Regions from separate parts of the Homo sapiens genome. Here region 2 is linked to region 1. A link means that fine-mapping ties the variant in region 1 to the expression of a gene that starts in the linked region. Tissue or cell type: whole blood. Region 1 holds a variant in brackets; the other region holds the start of a gene. All regions are shown on one strand. Distances are from middle to middle.

Region 1 (2,911 bases):
GGCATCATACTGGTTTTCCTCTGCAGTTGAGAAGAGTCATGTGCAAGCTCGTGGCAGCAGCAAGTCCTCCTAATATGTCCCTGGTATCAAACTAACTCATTAGACTGTGGTAGCTGTGGTTGACTCCTGGTTTCTCCCAACTCCACCCTTTTGGCAGGCAGCAACCCTGGCCAGCAGCTGCTCATGGTCTAGGAAGGACAGCTGTCTTAACACCCATTCATCTGTAGAGAGCAGCCTTTTGGATCAGCGGATGGCTCCACCAGATGCTCAGCTTGTTTTCAGTTCTGGAGTCTGAAATCCCCAGTGCCATCTACCTGGCATCAGTCTCAGGTGCAGCATTTTCATAAGGACCCTGATGTCAGCAGCTGCTTGTGTGGGTAACACTAGGTGAAATCATCCACTTATGTTCTCAGGTTAAGAGTTGATTAGGCCAATTGTATCCAGATCATTTTCCCTTATGAACAATGGCAGCTGCATGGCACATTTTTCAAAAATTTAGTCTAAAATACATGAAAAATATACTGTTTTCCTTTTTCTTGGAAATGGGAAAATAGATTTGGACTCAGTTCCTGAATTATATTTTCTCTCTCCCTGGGTTTCAATAGCAAGCCTAATGTAACTGTGTGTAAAAAGAAGTATTTTAATTTGGAGGGAAGGAGTTTGCCCTCACCACAAATCAACATTCTTTTCTCTATAAAACACTTGAGCTTGCATATGCAAATGAACCCCATGTAGGCATAATAATTAGTCATTCTTTCACAAAGAAATAATTGATGAACATTGTGGTATATGACAGACAGCATTAAGATACGTCAAGATTCTTTTGGATCTCTCAGCTTGTCAAAAAGCAGATGTCGATTTTGTGGCCTTGCTGGTAAAACATTGGACTCTTTCTCTTGGTGCACAATTTAGTCACCTTCTATAATTTGCTTTGAAATGAACAAGATCTGGCATAATATATCTTCTATTTAATGAGCAATATTACAAACAAGATTAAAAGAAATGGCTATGAAGCTATTGTCTTTGCAAATTGAATTTGGCAAGAGACGACTACAGACAAGTAATGAACTTTCTAGATACGTCACAGGGACAGATCATCATACTCCAGAATGGCATAGCTTTCTTTACAAACTTTAGTAAATGTATGGGAGAGCTTGTCATTCAAATACTAACAATTACAGAGATTCTAGGATGAATTCCAATAAGCTCATGTGGTTTAATTTTAGATGCAAACAGAAAGAAATCATTATTCACATAATTTTTGTTGTTAACCTTTTGGAGTAAAGTTGACAGAGTTGGAAAATCTGTACATTTAAAAAGTGTTACTGTTTATGATTACTGCGTTAGTCTGTTTGGACTGTTATAACAAAAATATCCTGGATGGGGTTGCTTTAACAACAAACATTTATTTTCCACGGTTCTGGAGGCTGGGAGGTCCAAGATTGAGGTGCCTGCAGATTCTGTGTATGGTGAGGGCCTGCTTTCCAGTTCACAGACAGCCATATTCTCACTGTGTTCTCACAGGGTTGAAGGGCAAGGGGCCTCTCGAGAGTCTCTTTTTACAAACTGTGCTTATCCCATTTATGAGGGCCTCACCTTCATGACCTAATCACTTCCAAAAGCCCTACCTCTAAATACCATCACATTGGGGATTAGGTTTCAACA[C/T]ATCAATTTTGGGGGAGCCATAGAGATTCAGTCCATAGCAACTACTAATGTTAATAATAGCAGTTACCATTTACTGAGTAGTTACATATGGTAGCCACTCTATTTAGTGCTTTCCATTTAATCCTCACTGCCATAGAAAAGAGATAAGTAACATTGTTATTCCCATTTTCAAATTAGCAATGTGAGTGTTTTAACCATAAACTTGTCCGAGATCAAGAGTTAGAAAAGAGAAGAGTCAGAATTCCACGTGTGCCCCATGACTTGAGATTCTGCACTTTTATTTGCAGGGTGAAACATCTCACAGTGGAAGAGGAGCATTCTGTGTTGAGAATTTCCATTGACGAAGCCAACTGAGTGGCCTGATTCCCTTGGACCAGCAATCTAGAGCTAGGGAAGATGTTGCCCCAAGGAAGAGGCACAGCAGACACTTGGCTCTCCTCTTGGGTTTCTGCTTTCTCTGAGAAAACAGAAGTTTGAGGCCTCTAGAAGCACTGCATTCCCTCCAAAGGGAGGTTGTAGATACATTAATTAATATGATTTTAATTCAAAACTTCCTGAGGCAGATAATTCTAAATGATTATCCCAAAAATATTTCCAACACCCTTCTTTTTACCACCCACTGGCCCCCAAATCCTCAATTTTCCAGTCTCCCTTGAGCTAAGTGTGGCCCTATGACTCACTTCCAGCCATGAAAACAAGTGCAAATCTGTTAGGAGTATGTTCTGGGGCAATTTTTGCTCTCCTGATGAAGACAAAGGCTGTTGATCCACTGAACCCACCCAGGTAATCACTTATTTTGTTCTTGTTCTAAGAGAAAAATGACCCCAACTATTAAAGTTACTGTGAGTTGATTAGTTTGTTTCTACTACCAAATATATTCCTAACTGCTACAGCTTTCAATATTTAATCATATTTAAAATTTTTCTTATGCAGATTAAATAGGTCAACAGATAAGGTAATTAGCATAATATTATCACCATTTTAAAGGCAAGGAGGAGGAGGCAGGCATGGTGGCTTACATCTGTAAATTCCAGCAACTCCAGAGCCTGAGGTGAGAGGATTGTTAGAGGCCAGGAGTTCAAGACCAGCCTAGGCAACATAGAAAGACCCCCATCTTTACAAAAAATTTAAAAAGTGTGCCTGTAGTCCTAGCTACTGGGGAGACTGAGGCGGGAGGATCACTTGAGCCCGGGAGTTGGAGGCTGCAGTGAGCTATGATCACAACACTGCCCTCCAGCTGAGTTAC
Region 2 (2,911 bases), 100 kb before region 1:
CAGCCCAAGGCAACTTTGAATTTTATGGTTACATTGCTAATTTTATCTTTATCTGAAAACCTTTGGCACAGATTTTGTCTTAAAGCACGTTTTGTCTTAAATAAGTCAACAGGATTGCTAACGTAAGGTCAGGTGCTAATCCCAGCATTTTGGGAGGCAGAAGTGGGAGGATCACTTGAGGCCAGGAGTTTGAGCCCAGCCTGGGCAATATGGTGAGACTCTGTTTCTACTAAAAATACAAAAATTAGCCGGGCTCACGCCTGTAGTCCCAGATACTTGGTGGCTGAGGCACAGAATTGCTTGAATCTGGGAGGTGACCCAGGATCGCGCCACTGCACTCCAGCCTGGCGTACAAAGCGAGATCCTGTCTCAAACAAACAAAAAGAAAAAAGAAATAAAAAAGACAGCTAATGTAGTATTAATTTGAAATGAGGGGGATCTGCCTGTCCAGTATTCAAATCCCAGTAACCTCTGGATGAATTACTTGCCATTTCTAGTTCTTGTCGCTTAATTTTAAGATGGAAATTTCTACGTTGAAGTTTTAGAGAGGTTGTTGAGAGAACAGAGACGATACAAGTCCATGCTTAGAATACTCAGTACATAGCAAAATAATAAATATTTTCCCTCTGCCCTCTCTCTTTTCTTGGAAAGCCAGGTAAGCAATGAGAAGTTGGTTTATGGCCAGGTGTGGTGGTTCACGCCTGCAAATCCCAGCACTTTGGGAGACCAAGGTGGGAGGATCCCTTGAGCTCAGGAGTTCGAGATCTGCTTGGGCCACATAGCAAGACCTCGTCTCCACAAAAAATTAAGATTACCTGGGCGTGGCACATTCCTGTAGTCCCAGCTACGGGAGGCTGAGTTGGGAGGATCACTTTAGCCTAGGAGGTCGAGGCTGCAGTGAGCTGTGATGGCACCACTGCACTCCAGCCTGGGTGACAGCCCTGTCAAAAACAAAACAAAACAAAAATTGCTGACGTATGCACAGTTAAAGCAAAAAGAGTTGGGATCCTTGAATGACGTTCATGTCTGTTCTGGCAAAGCCGGGATTGTTGGTCCCCCAAACTTCTTTAAAGAAGTTTACTCCTGGTAGCTCGATTAAGTATCTTTGTCCCATGGCCGTGGGGAATAAAAAGTTCAGTTGTCACCCCCTTTTTAAACTAAATGTCCGAAGAGACAAGGCAATCCCATCCTCTCTTCACACATTTGTGCAGGTGCAGCTTTATTTCCCACCGTGCGGTCCCAGGAGGCCGCCTGGTCTTCTGCGCTCACTTCCTAGGCATCCCTGGCCGCCCCTCGGCAGCCTCTCCTTCTGGCCTGAGACTTCCAGCTGAGCCTCATCCCCTCCACCTGAAAACTGCTCCATGGGGCACTTCATCTACCTGGAAAGTTCTCGATTTCCAACTGGAGCCTGTATACTGCTGGTTGTGTCTCAGCAGTTATTACAGCTCTGGGCTTACAACGGGAGCTTAGCAAAAGTTCCACCCTGGCTTCCTAGACTGCTACAGCTCCAAGAAAAATCCTGTGCGCACAAACGGCCGCCGCCTTTGGCGTCTCCCGCGGATTAGACCAGTTAGGAGGTCTCAGTAGGCTTTTAGGCAGGACAAGTTTTACGCCTGGCCAAATAAGGGTCAGACTAAGCAAGGCGCCTCCGTGCGCCTAGCCAGAGCGGTGCCGGCTGCGGAACCTGCCCCGCCGGGAGCCTAGTGCCATGCAGCAGCGGCGGCGGTGGCGGCTTCCCAAGCGCGGCGGCAAATCCGGGCCCGCCCGGAAGTGCCCGGCGCTGTAGGAGGGAGCAAGGGCCCAGGAGCCGCCGCCGCCGCCGCCGCGCGCACGCGCCCTCGCGGGCTGGAGCCGGGGCTGGAGTCGTAACTCGGAAGCCGGAGCCCAGACGGGCCCGCGGCGGGGGGGTGGGGGCTGCGCGGGGGCGGGAGTGGCGGAGGTGGCCGCCCCTGGCGGCGGGTTTGTTTATCCCGGGGAAGAAGTTTAGGAGCGGGAGATAGGGAAGGAGGGCGGGTCGGGGAGGAGGGATGCGGTTCGGCGGAGGCGGCCGCCACAGGGACTTGCCGCCATCACCCCTGCTGCCACCACCGCAGCCTCGGGCTCCCAGGGCGGACACGGCCACCGCCTCAGCGGGAGAGGAGTCTCCACCAGGACTGACCGCTGCCGCCCAGCACGTCCAGGTAGGCGCCCCTTCCCCTCCCCCCAGTCCCCGCGGCAGCCCCAGGCGCTTGCTCCCCTCCCCCGGCTCTCCGTAGACCGGCGGCCTCCTGCTCGCGCCTCACTGCGCCCTCTGCTCTCTGGGTCCCGGACCCCTGCTCGGGCGGCGAGCTCCGGCCTGCTCTGGGGACTACCTCCCACGCCCCCGGACCGCCCTTCCCTCGCGCGGCGGCACCACTTTCCCCGGGGTTGCCCCCAATCCCTCCTTGATTTCCCAGCCTCCACCTTCCAGGATCCCCTTTAGTTTTACCCCCGGGCCTCGCCCCTTCTTTTCCTCTGGCTTCTCTCCTCCTCTATACCTGTATACCTCCACACCTGCCCCTTTTTACCTGAGTGCTGCCCAAAGGCAGAAACTGCATGCTCTGCCACCGCGCAGCGTCCACTTTCATACCTCCTCATCCCAAATACAGACACTTGAAACTCTCGTCCCTGTTAGCCCATTTTAGGCAGAGTTCTCAGCTTCGCAGACCGCTCACTACCTCCAGTCCGGTGGTCATGCCTTTAACCTCTCTTTAACCTGCTTTCTAATACATTTTTGCTCACTTATACCAGAGTACATCAAGCTAACCGCGCGGTTCGGGGTCCAAGTCTTCAAAGAGCCCACTTGTATTCCTGCTGCTCTCCTTTTTCCTAATTCTTTTTGAGTCAATGTATTTGTATATTGATTCAACATAAAAGAAAAGGGAAGGTAGCA

Evidence for each region. PIP is the estimated chance that this variant, and not a neighbour inherited with it, causes the effect.
Region 2: SPOPL starts here. The variant in region 1 is fine-mapped to the expression of SPOPL in whole blood (TOPMed, PIP above 0.99).

What each region holds. Positions count from the first base shown.
Region 1 is chr2:138,602,112-138,605,022 of GRCh38, forward strand. LINC02631 (long intergenic non-protein coding RNA 2631) reads left to right here. Exons shown (of 3, transcript NR_174959.1): 1 at 1-330; 2 at 1,953-2,448. Among named protein-coding and RNA genes, the nearest start is that of LINC02631, 2.0 kb to the left of the region's middle. The variant C/T (reference allele first, on the strand shown) is at 1,666.
Region 2 is chr2:138,499,940-138,502,850 of GRCh38, forward strand. It overlaps SPOPL (speckle type BTB/POZ protein like), which reads left to right and starts at 1,831. Exons shown (of 11, transcript NM_001001664.3): 1 at 1,831-2,180. It overlaps SPOPL-DT (SPOPL divergent transcript), which reads right to left and starts at 1,756. Exons shown (of 2, transcript NR_187149.1): 1 at 1,380-1,756; 2 at 1-941. RefSeq lists silencers at 1,727-2,266, 2,467-2,516.